3 linked regions of the Homo sapiens genome follow. The protein of the gene in region 2 purifies or fractionates together with the protein of the main gene of each other region. This does not show direct contact. Each region holds a gene or a part of one and is shown on either strand. Other genes may lie near its edges. The genes, in order: OCM, WFDC1 and KLHL8.

The links.
Region 1: the proteins of WFDC1 (region 2) and OCM purify together in Homo sapiens (affinity purification with mass spectrometry; one large-scale study listed by BioGRID and IntAct). This does not show direct contact.
Region 3: the proteins of WFDC1 (region 2) and KLHL8 purify together in Homo sapiens (affinity purification with mass spectrometry; one large-scale study listed by BioGRID and IntAct). This does not show direct contact.

What each region holds. Positions count from the first base shown.
Region 1 is NC_000007.14:5,879,383-5,883,629, forward strand, and holds the start of OCM (oncomodulin-1), read left to right. Parts: upstream 1-1,415; 5' UTR 1,416-1,507; coding exon 1,508-1,568; intron 1,569-1,973; exon of another isoform or gene 1,974-2,008; intron 2,009-3,110; coding exon 3,111-3,243; intron 3,244-4,247. UniProt on the Homo sapiens protein: Has some calmodulin-like activity with respect to enzyme activation and growth regulation. Binds two calcium ions.
Region 2 is NC_000016.10:84,325,832-84,328,221, reverse strand, and holds part of WFDC1 (WAP four-disulfide core domain protein 1 isoform 1 precursor), read right to left. Parts: intron 1,341-2,390; coding exon 1,282-1,340; 3' UTR 1,267-1,281; intron 1-1,266. UniProt on the Homo sapiens protein: Has growth inhibitory activity.
Region 3 is NC_000004.12:87,213,989-87,217,645, reverse strand, and holds part of KLHL8 (kelch-like protein 8), read left to right. Parts: intron 1-3,657. UniProt on the Homo sapiens protein: Substrate-specific adapter of a BCR (BTB-CUL3-RBX1) E3 ubiquitin ligase complex required for The BCR(KLHL8) ubiquitin ligase complex mediates ubiquitination and degradation of RAPSN.

The sequences.
Region 1 (4,247 bases), on a different chromosome or scaffold from region 2:
TCACTTAGCCCTGTCTCCTGTGCCGGGTGAGACCTGTGTGTGCACTTGGTGACAATGGCTTTGAGTCTGTCAACTCCAGACTGAGGTCAGCCTTACACACCCATAGTTCCCAAAGCTGAAAACAGGCCTGCCTCCAACGGTACCTGCTAATATCAGGGGAGCCTTTTCAGCTTACAGAGCACCCTGTATGTGTTTGTCTTAGTTCAGGCCACCATCTCCACCTTACCAGGCATCTAGAACCTTCTCCACACTTTGCCAACAGGGTTCGTTTGCAGAATTGAAATCTTAGTTAAGGTTTGTTGAAGTTTGTTGTTGTTTTTTTTTTTTTTTTACAATTGGCTGTTCCCACCCACATTCCCTTGAGACATAAATAGAAAAAAAAAAAAAAAGAGGTTTCATGAGTAAGACAAGACATTTGAGCTGCATCCACTTGATCCTTGAAAAGGAAATCTAAGAGGTTGTAACTATCACTTTTTCTAGCCTATATAAGGTAGGTCAGTAAGGTAGCAAAAACACATCTGTTGTTTTGCTCCTTCAACTCTTTTTCCTGATTCTTCCTGGGGGGAAACCGAAAACGGTGAGTAACTGGTGGACACATCAGACCCCAGACTCTTTTCTTCACTGCATGCATTCATATTAGGCTCAGGTGCTTAGACTCCTGTTTTCCGGTGGCTCTGACACCTGGAAGGATTTTAATCTCTGGGAGATGGGCTTTTCATCCATCTGCTTCCCACCTTTCAGGACAGGTGCATGCCTTCTTCCACAGAATGTCTGCAAGCAGCCCAAACTGTATCCTTTCCCACGTGGAATTTGCAACATTGCATCTCTCGGGCTGCTGTAGGAAAATGCCAGTGCATGTGTAACATGGTTTACGGCTGCCTATGCAAATGACTGATTATGTCAGTATAATTTTTATAAGAAAACAATTGAATCCTTCTTTGGGTCATTTTTTTTTTCCATTTTTGGCATGTATTCAAAAGAAGGCTCTGAGACAAAAAAGGCTGGGGTGTTTTCCGTATCTGGTTTTAATTTGGATATTCTGTCCCGTCACTTAATACAAAACCATGCTTATCACATTTTAAAAATTCTAGACAGGCCTGGCTCGGTGGCTTGCATCTGTCATCCCAGCACTTTGTGAGGCCAAGGCAGGCAGATCACCTGAGGTCAGGAGCTCAAGACCAGCCTGGCCAACATGGCAAAACCCCGTCTCTACTAAAAACACAAAAATTAGCCAGGCATGGTAGTGCGCACCTGTAATCCCAGCTACTGGGAAGGCTTAGGCAGGAGAATCACTTGAGCCCAGGAGGCGGAGGTTGCGGTGAGCCGAGATCACGCTCTTGCACTCCAGCCTGGGTGACAGAGTGAGACTCCGTCTTAATTTAAAAAAAAAAATAATCTAGACACACATACAGTTTCAGTGGGCCTGGGAAGATGTGTTTCCCCTGGATGTGCACATTCCTGTTTGTGGCTTATCGCCTCTCATTTATTCTGTGTGAGTAGGTAGAAAATGAGCATCACGGACGTGCTCAGTGCTGACGACATTGCAGCAGCGCTCCAGGAATGCCGAGGTAGAGGGGACGTGAGGCGGGGGTGGGATTTCCTCACAGCTTTGCACCTCCAGCGAGTCAACACAAAATCAAAATGTAGGCCAGGCGGCCAGACGCAGTGGCTCACACCTGTAATCCCAGCACTTTGGGAGGCCGAGGCGGGTGGATCACGAGGTCAGGAGTTCGAGACCAGCCTGGCCAAGATGGTGAAACCCCATCTCTACTAAAAATACAAAAAAATTAACCGGGCGTGGTGGTGGGTGCCTGTAATCCCAGCTACTCGGGAGGCTGAGGCAGAGAATTGCTTGAACCCGGGAGGCAGAAGTTGCAGTGAGCTGAGATCATGCCACTGCACTCCAGCCTGGGCAACAGAGCAAGACTCTGTCTACAAAAAAAAAAAAAAAAAGTAGACCAGGCATGGTGGCTCACATCTGTAATCCCAACACTTTTTGGAGGCCAAGGTGAGAGGACTGTTTGAGCCCAGGAGTTTGAGACCAGCCTGGGCAACATAGGAAGACTCCATCTCTACAACATAACAATAAAAATAAAAACTAGCGGGGCATGGTGGCATGTGCCTGTGGTCCCAGCTACTCTGGAAACTAAGGTAGGAGGATCACTGAAGCCCAGGAGGTTGAGGCTGTGGTGAGCTATGATCGCTACACTGCACTCCAGCTTGGACGACAGAGTGAGACTCTGGCTCTAAATAAATAAATAAATAAATAAATAAGAGGTTGGCTGGAAAATTCATGGAATCAGAGAAGAAAACTGCTATTTATTAGATAACTAAAATTATAGAGATCTGGGATCTGAGCACACGATTACACATCTGTAAGACAAAAGAAACCTACTAAACATGAAAGCAAGACATCACTGAAAGGCCAGGTGTCGTGCTCACACCTGTAATCCCAACACTTTGGGAGGCCGAGGCCGGTGCATCACTTGAGGTCAGGAGTTCAAGACCAACCTGGCCAGCATGGCAAAACCCTGTCTCTATTAAAAATACAAAAATGAGCTGGGCATGGGGGTGCACACCTGTAATCTCAGCTACTTGGGAGGCTGAAGCAGGAGAATCAGTTGAACCCGGGAGGCAGAGGTTGCAGTGAGCCGAGATCACGCCACTGCACTCCAGCCTGGTGACAGAGTGAGACTCTGTCTCAAAAAAAAAAAAAAAAAAAAAAAAAAAAAAAAAAGCGCCAAAGGCCATTTAGCCTGTTGAAATCCAGTGATTGCATTTCCCCCTACCAATTAGACCAGGGATGCTGGGGGCTCAGCCACACAGCCTGTAAAGTGGGCCAGGGGGAGGGGGAGGCACAGAAGAGATGAGGAGGGAAAAGGAAAATGGACAAAACCAAGTGGAGGAGGGAAGACTGGGGCGGAGGGGACATGGGATGCCATCACAGAGCCATCAAGTCTTGGCTGTCCCAAAATCTTGGACCAGTTGAGCATCCCCGTAGCTCAGGGATATTGTTGAAGTGTTTTTAATTATCTGTGTTTTTAGTACCTTGGCCCCAACATAGAATGTGATCCAACAAGCGTCAGAATAACCAATTCTCTGTTCTTCAGACCCAGACACTTTTGAACCCCAAAAATTCTTCCAGACATCAGGCCTCTCCAAGATGTCAGCCAATCAGGTGAAGGATGTTTTCCGGTTCATAGACAACGACCAGAGCGGGTACCTGGATGAAGAAGAGCTTAAGTAAGCTTTGTCCTGAGTCTGTCTGGTACCCGGCACTGCTGAGTGGGCCTGGGGTGCAGTGGGGGCCAGGTTGCTCAGTATTTCTTCAATGGCCAGCCTTGGTGTTGGTCATTCGGCCAAGCATCATTAAAGCAAAGGACATGAGTCAGTTGACCGCACATCTACCCATGCAAAGCCCTCAATATGGGCAGAGAAGACTGCAGGTGCAAAGATTCTTTTTTTTTTTTTTTTTTTTGAGACAGGGCCTCACTCTGTTGCCCAGGCTGGAGTGCAGTGGGGTGATCTCAGCTCCCTGCAGCCTCCGCCTTCCAAATTCAAGTGATTCTCATGCCTCAGTCTCCCAAGTGGCTGGGATTACAGGTGCCTGCCACCACATCCAGCTCATTTTCATATTTAGAGTAGAGATGGGGCTTCACTATGTTGCCAGGCTGGTCTCAAACTCCTGACTTCAAGTGATCCTCCTGCCTTGGCCTCCCAAAGTGCTGGGATTACAGGTGTGAGTCACTGTGCCCAGCCACAAAGATTCTTTCATGTAAGGGATTTCCTTTGGCAAATGGACTTTAAAAAACTAAAAACTTGGCTAAGCGCAGTGGCTCACGCCTGTAATTCCAGCTACTCAGAAGACTGAAGCACAAGAATTGCTTGAAGTCAGGAGGCAGAGGTTGCAGTGAGCCCAGATCGTGCAGCTGCACTCCAGCCTGGGTGACAGAGAGAGACTCTGTCTCAAATAAATAAATAAATAAAAATTAAAAACACTAAAAACTTAAAAATGGGCCAGGCACTGTGGCTCACACCTACAATCCCAGCCCTTTGGGAGGCTGAGGTGGGTGGATTGCTTGAGTGAGCCCAGGGGTTCCAGACCAGTCTGGGGAACATGACAAAACCTTGTCTCTACAAAAAAAAATACAAATGTTAGTGGGGCATGGTGGGGTGCACCTGTAGTCCCAGCTACTCAGGAGGTTGAGGCAGGAGGATTGATTGAGCCCAGGAAGTCGAGGCTGCAG
Region 2 (2,390 bases):
GTCTACCCCAGGGGCCTTCTTTGGCTCCCCAAAGCCAGCGTCCCTCCTGCCTCAGTACTTTCACTCTTCCAACTCCCTCCACCTGGGCGCCTATCCTCCAGACCCTCCCCAAGCAGCACCTTCTCACCTTGGATCTTGGCTCAGACTTCAACCCCCACAGGGCCTTCCCTGACCCCAAACGAAGCAGCCCCTGCCCCAGGCTCTGCTCCTGCCCAGGGACTCTGCCCCACATTGCCTGTTCACTTCTTCACCACACCTGTCTTTGTATTGATTGATCTGTTGGCTTGTGTAGCCGTCCCCTACCAGGATGTGGCCTCCCTGAGGGCAGCGGCTCTGTGGGATTTGTTCACTATACCACCCTGGCATGAACTACCGCTGAGCAACCAAGAGGCTGGAACCATGACTATCAGATAGTTGGCACCCAACAGAATTGTTTGACAGAAATGAGAAGAGATAGACAAGACTTCCTGGAGACATCAAGGCAAAGGAATGAAAAGGAAAGTTGCGACCTAGTCTGGTCTTGGATTTTTGATTCAGAGGGATACAGAATTGCTTCTGCTTCTGATCACACACAAAGTTCTCCTACGTTCCTGCCTTGAAATTGCAGTAGGTCCTCATTTAACATCATGGATAGCTTATTGGAAACTGCAACTTTAAGCAAAATGACCTACTATATAACAAAAACAATTTTACCATAGGCTAATGGATATAAACAAGAGTTAAGGCCAGGCACAGTGACTCATGCCTGCAATCCCAGCACTTTGGGAGGCCAAAGTGGGAGGACTGCTTGAGGCCAGGAGTTCAAGACCAGCCTGAGTAACATAGTGAGAACTCATCTCTACAAAAAATACAAAAAAAAAATTAGCCAGGTGAGGTGGTGTATGTCTGTAGTCCCAGCTACTGAGACTAAAGCTGAGGCAGGAGGATGGCTTGAGCCTAGGAGTCTGAGGCTGCAGTGAACAATGATTGTGCCAGTGCACTCCAGCCTGGGTGACAGAGTGAGACCCCATCTCTTAAAAAAACAAACAAATGAGTTAAGCTTCTATGGCATACAGTGCATATAGTATGTCGTTGCATTTAAAGTCAGTTTCCAAGAACCTATTGATGACGTTAGGTGAGGACTTACTGCAGAAGGGAATTTCAAATTCTACCAGTAGGGAAAGCGCTACTCTCACCCTCCTGCTCCTCAACCTGGTGGTGAAAGCTGCCAGGACACTGGCTGCCCACATTTACCCTGGCCATGACTCTTGCTCTCTGCCCACTCACCTGCTTGCCGTTGCTTTACTGAAAGTGCTTCTGTTGTCCCCTTCCAGGTTCTGCCACATTCTTTGAGTCACCTTCTGTGAAAAGAACACAGCTCTGTTGGGGTAGATGTATCTATTCCTGCTCTAATGCCCCCCGTGGCTCACCAGGAACTGCCAAATGAAGCCTGGTGACCTGGCCCTCTCCTCCCTCCCCCAGCTGAGGTCACTCAGTCCCCACCTGCAGTGCCTCCTCTCCCTCCCCAGGCCCCCCAGCTGGTGTCACCAGCTCTGTCTATGTTTCTGGTCTTACCTCCCACCACCTCCACAGCTCACCACACACTCCAGCTTTGGGGATGGCCAAATTGCTTCCGACCTCAAGAGCTTCACACATGCCATTCTGCTGCCCACTATTTCTTATTCTTTAGGCTGAGCTTTCATGTCTCCTCCTTAGGAAGCCTTTTCTCACAACCTGGACTAAGGTGTCCTCATAGTATCCAGCATGTGATGTCAGGAAGGCTTGTCACTATTCTCATAAAATAACCACTTGGGCTATATTCATGTCTGAATTTTCTGCTTGATATTAGCTGCATGACAGCAGCGACTGGGTCTGTCATGTTCACAAATGTAGCTCCAACCCCCAGCACAGACTGATGAGTAATACTTAGAAAATATGTGCTGTAAATTATTGATAAAGACATATCAGATGGATGGGAGAATGGATGGATGGATGGGTGAATGGATAAATGATGGATGGATGGATGGGTGAATGGGTGAATGGATAAATGATGGATGGATGGATGCATGGATATATGGGTGGGTGGATAGATGGATAGATGGGTAGATGAATGGATGGATGGATGGATGGATGGATAGATGGGTGGGTGGATGGACGGATGGATATATGGATGGATGGATAGATGGATGGATAGTGGCTGGCTGGATGGCTGAATAGATAGATGGATATATGGGTGGATGGATGAATGGATACATAGGTGAATGGATGGATGGGTAGATGGGTGGATGGGTGGATGGATGGATGTATGAATGGATGAAAGAAGAGATAGATGAATGAATGCAAGGATATGTGCATGAATGGATGAATGGGCAGATGGATGGATGGTTGGGTGAATGGATGTACGGGCAAAT
Region 3 (3,657 bases), on a different chromosome or scaffold from region 2:
GGCCAGGCTCGGTGGCTCATGCTTGTAATCCTAGCACTTTCAGAAGCCAAAGCAGGCCAATTGCTTGATCCCAGGAGTTCCAGACCAGCCTGAACAACACGGCGAAACCCTGTGTCTACAAAAAAACAAACAAACGAACAAAAATTACCCAGATGTGGTGGTGTGCACCTGTGGTCCCAGCTACTCGGGAGACTGAGGTGGGAGGATCACCTGAGTCCAGGGAGGTCAAGGCTGCAGTGAGCCATGATTGCATCACTGCACTCCAGCCTGGGTGACAGAGTGAGACCCTATTTCCCCCCACCCCCAAAAAAAGCAAGAGATGAGGGAGGATAAATGTTTCATAAAATAACAAAATGTTGTTTTCAGTCGCTAAAATTCACTTGACTATGTCTTTTTTTTTTTTCTGAACAAAATGGTTTATATTAGCCAAAGAAACAAGAGGGAGTTGAGCATTTTAAATAAATTAATTTTTGTTTACTCATGTCAAGATATGTCTGCAATAAAAATGTCACCCATTAGTCTATTTTTAAAAATTCTGTTTTCTCTGTTTTGAGGAGCTTTTATGGAAGCACCAGACTATAATATTGTTCTGAGCTCACTTCTGGTACTACACAATTCTCTATTAGAATCCCAGATCTCCACTTATTGGCTGTGTGAGCATGGCAAGTAATTTTCTAAACCTCTTTCCTTAGCTGTGGAAGGGGGATAAAAATAATACGTACTTCTATTTTACCAGAATTGAGGATTATTTGGTGTTGTATGTGAAAACATTCTCTAAGCTATAATCAACTATAATATTCATTGATATTACTAGTCACATGCTGTATTTTAAAATGCTGCCAGTACAATTTATTTTCTGGTGGATATTGCTATATAGATACTGTCAGCTGCTTTTTTTTTAAATGGGTTGGTCATGCAAGAAAGTATATTGTTTGGTTTGGTTATGAATGATTTAGTTGGTTCTTATGAGTCAGAGAGAGAATTATGGAAGAGGGTTGGAGGGACCTTGGGAAATTTTCTACTTCATCTCTCTGACTCTTAACCTGAATCTGTTAGCGTGAGCATAAATGGTCTTCCAAGGGTCTGTGAACTCTGTATATTTATACTTTTCTGGGGAGAAATTAAATGAAAATTTATACTTTTCTGGGGAAAAATTAAATTAAAAGAGCATCATGACCTTGTTCCCACTAAAGGTTTAGGAAACCACTAGCTTCAATGATCTAGGCAGGTTTCTTTAGTAAAAATGTTAGAGATTATTTTTAAAATTAGTTTTTTGTGGAAAGGAAAGAGAAACAGGTTATATTGCGGAAAGGAAAGAGAACAGGCTATTTTTGAAGCACTGAGTATCTGTTTTTCTTCCAAAGCTAGAAGTTGATATTTATGATACACTACCTTCATATGAATAATAGTGCTGCTACTTCTACCTGGAAGTGGTACCTTTGATTGATTCATTATCATTAGGCAGGTATTGTCTACTCCTCTCTTCTTCCCCACCCCCAGCCTTGATGGGCAATACAGTGGAGGCAGAGAATGGGACTTTAATACAATCCAGCATGTCAGAATATTATTTAAAATGCCAAAAGATAATTTGGCTTGTTTATTCTAAATTTGGATGTTCTTTGTTTTCACAACAAAACACCCAATGTTAAAGAAAATTAAGTGTTTAATCTTTCAAACTAGATGATGATATATACATAATCTGTTGTATGATATTTCTTGTATATCATAGAGTATAAAATTTTATTAAATCCTAATTGATGATCACTTTGACTTTTAGTACTGCTAGTTTGAAAAGATGGATATGTATGTTTTCAAGAAATTTACAGTTTGCTTTTGTAGATTATATTATAATTTGTGATTTTCATTTATAACATTTAAAACTTATTTGCTTTTTTTGAATTTCTGAATCGGACATACTTTTAAATCTGAGTTTATTCTTATAAGAATAAGCGTTTGGAATTTTGCCCTGTTTTCCTTGTATAATGATTGCTGGGCTATAAGGCTTTACAGTGTAAAACCAAGTTCTGTTCTGGATCAGTTACTAGTAGCATTCCCAAGGCTGGGAGAGTATGAGGTGGATCAAGTGATGCTAAACAAACTTGTGAATGAATCTGTCCATCAAGTAATGTCTTTTTCCTTGAGATCTTTTTTTCCTTTGATATTAATATTTTCATTTAAAGTTGAAATGTTTTTCAAAGTTCAAGGTTCTAAACCAATATTTGGGAATTTATAGAATAAAGTAGCAGAAGTGTGGTTCTTTGTAAAAATAGTCTGAGAAGTCTGAAATAGACCTCAAAGATTAGTAGTAGAGATGAATGCCAATATTGCAGCATACTTTATATATAAAAGATAAGTCACTACGTTGGATCTTTAGTTATTTTAATGCAGAGGATTGCTTAACTTTAATAATGAAAGTTTGAATTAAATTAATTAGATATGGAAAACAAAAGGGAATAATTTCAGCAAAAATTTTACCTATGGGAATCCAATCATTTTAAGATCAGTGATTTGTATGGCTTCTCCTACACTTAAACCTTAAAAAATTCTGGCCGAGCGGGGTGGCTCACGCCTATAATTCCAGCACCGTGGGAGGCCGAGGCAGGTGGATCACTTGAGGCCAAGAGTTCCAGACCAGCCTGGTCAACATGATGAAACCCTCTCTCTACTAAAAATACAAAAATTATCTGGGCATGGTGGTGCACAGTTGTAATCCCAGCTACTTGAGAGGCGGAGGCTGGAGGATCATGTGAACCCAGGAGGAGGAGGCTGCAGTGAGCTGAGATTGTGCCACTGCACTCCAGCCTGGGTGACAAAGCAAGACTCCATCTCAAAGAAAAAACAAAACCAAAAAAAAACCTTTAAAAATTCCTGAAACATTTCCTGTATAGGGAGAATATTATTAATACCACTATTTTGGTTCTCATTGTCATTTACACATAGGCACCTCCATACAGAGATAACATTAATTCTGTCTTTGGCCTAGTGATAAGAGCTTGGGCTTTGTAGTCAGGCAAGTCTCTATTGAATCCTCGACATTGCACTTCATAGCTATGAGACCTTGGTTAGGTGTCTTAACTTCTCTGGGCCTCATTATCCAAAACTGCAAAAAAATAGGAATTTTACCTCTTTGAGTTATCCCAAGGATTGAAATGAATACATGTAAGTATTTAACTCATGATGACAATTATATATATATATATATATATATATATATATATATATATATATATCTGTTATGTGCCAGTTTGTTAACTCATTTAAGTTTTATAGCAATCCTATGAGGTTGATACTATTATTTTCCTCATTTTTACAGATGAGGAAACTAAAGCTAATGAAACGTTATGTAACTTAACCAATATCATACAATGAATATACAACTAATAAGTAGATAGAAGCACCCAATTAATGCTTGCTGTTGTCATTAAAAAAAAAAAGATGACTTAGGGTATTACCATCTTTTCTATAGTGGGTTCCTAATAATTGCAATCTCATGTAGAGCATTATAAAGCATATTTTATTTCTTTGCTGGAAAAAATGTTGATTGCAGGACTGTGTTCCTGACCAAGGACTCAGGATCACATAATTTATAAAAGTAATAACATCTGTTTATTGAATCTTACTATGTACTAGATACAGAGCTAAATACTTTATATAAAT